Regions from separate parts of the Homo sapiens genome. Here region 1 is linked to region 2. Evidence: fine-mapped expression QTL. Tissue or cell type: whole blood. Region 2 holds a variant in brackets; the other region holds the start of a gene. All regions are shown on one strand. Distances are between the middles of the regions.

Region 1 (2,611 bases), 45 kb before region 2:
AATATAAGTGAGGTCTAATTGGTTTTAAATGAAGTATTTTCCACTCTTTCATTTCTTGAGTGGTTTCAATTTAGAGCATCTCTTCGGTTCTACCTTTAATTCCCACATTTAGATTACAGTGAGATCATTTTCTGTTCCTCAATTTTGGTTCCAGACCAACATTTTAGATTTTAATACTACTATAATCTTGCTTTATCCAACAATAAAATCTTGCCAAAAGTACAAGTACTATTGAAGATATTTGTTGTATTTTCATTAAGAAAAGCTATTTTATAAAAGGGATGGATGATATAAAATAATACGTTTTTAATGAGAATTTTGAGCCCAATTAGCACGTTTGTTTGTTTGTTTTCTCTCCAGCAACCATAGTAAGTCCACCAAACCTTGATTTAGATCATCTGGTAATACAATGAAGTTGGGAAACGGTTTAGGTCGTATCTCAGAGGGTCCGCTCCTCTCACCATCCAAGTTTCTGCAGCAGCAGTGTTAAGAAAGATTCCTTGCCGGGCGCGGTAGGTCACGCCTGTAATCCCAGCACTTTGGGAGGCAGAGGCGGGCGGATCACTTGAGGTCAGGAGATCGAGACCATCCTGGCCAACATGGTGAAACCCCGTCTCTACTAAAAATACAAAAATTAACCGGGTGTGGTGGTGCGTGCCTGTAGTCCCAGCTACTCGGGAGCCTGAGGCAGGAGAATAGCTTGAACCCAGGAAGCAGAGGTTGCAGTGAGCCGAGATCGCGCCACTGCACTCCAGCCTGGGCGACAGAGCGAGACTCTGTCTCAAAAAAAAAAAATTCTTAATTTAATGCTTAGTCGACTCCTCCACTACTGAGGGAGCAAGGCGGAGAAGTTTTGATGCGGAGCGTTGCCTGAAAGATGTTTTTGTAGAGGCATTTTAGAAATGCCCCTGGGAGGTTAGAGTAGGGGGCTGCTCTGGATTTGTGAGGTCCGTTTTAACTTCCCTTGAAAAGCGCATCATGTGGGCGGGGGCAAGCGCCTGGCTGCGCCGGGGGGCACCACGGTGCTGCCCATCACGGGAACCGTCCGGGGTCGGTCCGTGAGCCCCTTTCTCCGCCCACCCAGCGGTCCGGCCGCGCATGCGCTGAGCTGGCGGGCCCGAGTGTTGTCGGCTGGGAAATGGCGGCCGCGGGCTTGGTCGCTGTGGCAGCGGCTGCCGAGTACTCTGGCACGGTAGCGTCGGGAGGTAACCTCCCTGGTGTTCACTGCGGCCCAAGCTCCGGGGCAGGCCCTGGTTTTGGCCCGGGCTCGTGGAGCCGCTCTCTCGATCGAGCCCTGGAGGAGGCGGCGGTCACTGGGGTGCTGAGCCTGAGCGGCCGGAAACTGAGGGAGTTTCCCCGGGGAGCGGCCAACCACGACCTGACGGACACCACCCGGGCGGGTGAGCGGGGCGGGGGGCGTCTCTGCCCGTCGGAGACCCGGCGCCGGGAGCCGCCCCGGCCGGGGGAGGCGGATGCGGGGGAGTTACAGCAGCTCGTCCCGTAGGCGCCGGGTCCGGACCCGGGTAACGGGGAGAAGCCGACGGCGCCAGCCCTCCGGGCCTGCGCCAGACCCAGAGCCTGGGGAGAGGCGGCGGGCGGCGGCATCTCTCGGGGAAGGGGGCCGGAGTGATTGATGGATGATTTTTTAGGCTTTCTGAGGAAAATCAGTTTCTGCCACGGCGGAGGTAGACCCTTGCCCCGCCCCGGTTTCTGCAGGCCCTTTCGGATTTGGGGTGCCGAATGGACCTGCTAAGACGGGAACGTTAGCGCGAGCTCTTCACAGATCAGAGTAGCAGGGGTGTCTGGACGAGCTGCATTGTCAGGAAGGGTCGGTCTCAGCCCTGGAGTTTTTTCGAAAGAAGTGTTGGGGAGCGTGTGTTTAAAGTGGACCCGAAAGAAGTGTTGGGGTGTGTGTGTGTTTAAAGTGAACCCGAGAGAAGTGTTGGGGTGTGTGTGTGTTTAAAGTGAACCCCAAAGAAGTGCTGGGGTGTGTGTGAAGTGAACCCGAACGCTGGAACGTCTTTCTTCGCCTCCATCTAGTTGACTTACAAAATAAATACGCTTGTAAAAATAACTAGAGCCCACTTTCCGACTCCCATTAGTTTCCTCTTCCACTCCTCATGTCCTCCAAAAAAAAGTTGAAGCAAACTACTTAGAAAAGATAGTCTAACATATTTGTACTTGCTATTCCTTTTTAAAGCATTACTTCGTGTTATGTATGTTTTCGAACACAGGAAAGAGAATAAGAAAGTAGGTATTATTTGGCTTTCTTAGTTGTGGCGAACAGTGTCTGGTGCCCGAGTTGTTCATCATCATGTTTGCAGTGCCGTCATCACTGCTCACTGCAGCCTCGACCTCCCGGGCTCAGGTGATCCTCCCACCTCAGCCTCCTGAGTAGCTGGGACTACAGGCAGCCGCCACCACGCCCAGCTAATTTTATATATATATATATATATATATATATAAAATATACATATATATATAATATACATATAAATATTATATATAAAATATATATATATTTTTTCGAGACGGTATCTCGCTCTTGTCTCCCAGGCTGGAGTGGAATGACACAATCTCTGCTCATTGCAACCTCTGCCTCCCAGGCTCA
Region 2 (2,611 bases):
AAAATAGAAAATCATGGGGAAAAGGAAATAAGTAAATGTCTTTTATTGGCTATCTAATTTGAATGTTTTTTTCTGGTGTGTGTGTGTGTGTGGGTGTGTGTGTGGTGTATACAGTGGAACATGATCTGGATCAGATTGACTACATAGACAGCTGCACCGCAGAGGAAGAGGAGGCCGAGGTGAGACAGCCCAAGGGACCAGACCCAGACAGCCTTAGTTCACAGTTTATGGCGTATATTGAACAGCGGCGAATCTCTCATGAGGTAGTACACAGATTGAAGCCTAAATATGTTGCTATCCCTTCATAAAAATAATTCATAATAGTATAAAGTTTTGTTATATCAGTGATTTGTTGACTGAAGCCTAATTGTTTTCATTATGTTCACTTCTGATTTCAGTCCTGAGTTTTTCAGATTTATTCAGAAAACTCAGACAGCAGCCTCAAGTAGGCTTTAGGTTTATTTTTCAAACAAGAAGAAAGATTTCAGAATTTTGCAGGAGGAATAAAAGAAGTCTAGGTACTGTTAAGGCCTTGGAAGAAAGTACAAAGAAAAATACAGTGATGCTTTTCATTGTTGTTTTTATTGCTTTTTTATTGTTACTAACTGATAAATCATAGTTTGGTCAGTAGTTAATTAACAGTTAAACCAAAAAGTTGACTTTTGTGGCAACATGCAGACTTAACCATAGAATTTTTATAATATGCTGAATTATATTGGAGCTTTTGTGCTAAGTCACACAGAATGTAAATTGTTTGCTATTAAAGTTCTTGGGTATCTCTTAAGTGGAGCATTGAATTGCCTTAGAAAACAAATGTGCATTCAGCCCACTACAGAATCTCTGCCAATTCCCCAAGGGTCTCAGATAGAATAGCATTCTTCAGTCTATCTTGTCAGCATAATAAAATGGCTTCACTTTAGTGGATGTGATGTTGATGTCTGGAGCTGGTTTCAGGCTCTGAGCAGTGATTATTTGAGAAACACTTGGGCCCTTTTAGAGAATGATGTATTATCCTTTTAGAAATAGAGAAGAATCTCTTTGGTCTGAGACAGCTAAAAGGAAAGAAAAAAAAAGAAATAGAGAATAATCATTTCAAGTGGGACATGTTGTAGAGTGATATTATCATTCTTTATTTAATGAAGCAGAGTCACTCTGTCGCCCAGGCTGGTGTGCCTTGGCACGATCTCGGCTTACTGCAGCCTCTGCCTCCCAGGTTCAAGTGATTGTCCTTCCTCAGCCTCCCGAGTAGCTGGGATTACAGGCACCTGCCACCATGCCCGGCTAATTTTTATATTTTTAGTAGAGACGGGGTTTCACCATGTTGGCCAGGCTGGTCTCAAACTCCTGACCTCGGGTGATCTGCCCGCCTCAGCCTCCCAAAGTGCTGGGATTACAGGTGTGAGCCACCGCACCCAGCCAGTATTATCATTCTTTTTTTTAAAAAAAGGGCCTTGGTTTTTCCTATCTGAATACTTTTGAACACCGTATTTTTTGTTGGTAAAGAGACA[T/C]ACTTGTATTTAAAGTTGGATAAAATTAGATAAGTCAAAGTCCTACAGCCCAGAGATGGCAGTGTACTAGGTGACTGATGAAACTACTTGTTGAGGCTGCTGGAGCAAGGGGCAACTAACTATTTTGCAATAAAATTAAAAATGACACATTATAATCCTTAAAGGAATTCATTTTCTTTTTTCCTGGTCTTTCTCTTTGATCATGTTATGGTTACTTAGGCTGTATAAATGGAGTATCTCTACTAAAAGTGAAAATGCCTATTATACTACTATAAAAAAATAGTATTTCTTTAATTCATTGTATTGTTTTGTAATAATATTTTTAAAATTCTGGCTGCCTGTTACGTATGGTAGTCTTTATGACTTCTGTGTCATAAAGCTTTCGTAAAATTTAGCATCTGTGAAAATGTGATGAGGCAGCATTATTTTAGATGGTTTCACAACCAGTGAAGTATCTTTTTATTTTCCTGAACACTATCTAAAAATGGAATGTTAAAAACTAACCTATGTGAGGTGTTAAACACTCTACTATTATTTAATTTTATTATAATACTTGTCACATACATAGACCATTCCTGTCTGAACATGGTATGATTTTTTTTTTAATTAAACCAATGTCACATTCATTTTGTCATGAAAATTTCGTGTGCCTCTTAGAATAATTTTAGATAATTGCAGTATCATAAAACTAGGATGGGGCTGGACATGGTGGCTCACACCTGTAATCCCAGCACTGTGGGAGGCCAAGGCAGGTGGATCACTTGAGGTCAGGAGTTTGAGACCAGACTGGCCAACATGAAGAAACGCTGTCTCTACTAAAAATATATATTAAAAAAAAAAAACTTAGCTGGGTGTCATGGCAGGTGCCTGTAATCCCAGCCACTCGGGAGGCTGAGGCACGAGAGTCACTTGAACCTGGGCAGCGGACATTGCAGTGAGCCGAGATTGTGCTACTGCACTCCAGCCTAGGTGACAGAGCAAGATTCTGTATCCAAAAAAAAAAAACTAGGGTGGTAAGCCACTGGTACAGCGTCCTAGGAGAGATTTGTGTTTATTGTTTAAAGTGGTGTAGCTTGGCCTGGTGGCTCCTTCCTGTAGTCTCA

The links. PIP is the estimated chance that this variant, and not a neighbour inherited with it, causes the effect.
Region 1: LRCH3 starts here. The variant in region 2 is fine-mapped to the expression of LRCH3 in whole blood (INTERVAL, PIP above 0.99).

Annotation. Positions count from the first base shown.
Region 1 is chr3:197,790,141-197,792,751 of GRCh38, forward strand. LRCH3 (leucine rich repeats and calponin homology domain containing 3) reads left to right here and starts at 1,114. Exons shown (of 21, transcript NM_001365715.1): 1 at 1,114-1,400. The coding sequence starts at 1,139. RefSeq lists enhancers at 774-1,488, 1,102-1,301 and a silencer at 1,342-1,611.
Region 2 is chr3:197,835,560-197,838,170 of GRCh38, forward strand. It overlaps LRCH3 (leucine rich repeats and calponin homology domain containing 3), which reads left to right. Exons shown (of 21, transcript NM_001365715.1): 9 at 115-263. All of the region lies in intron 1 of LOC105374310 (a long non-coding RNA gene), which reads right to left. Among named protein-coding and RNA genes, the nearest start is that of LRCH3, 46 kb to the left of the region's middle. The variant T/C (reference allele first, on the strand shown) is at 1,509.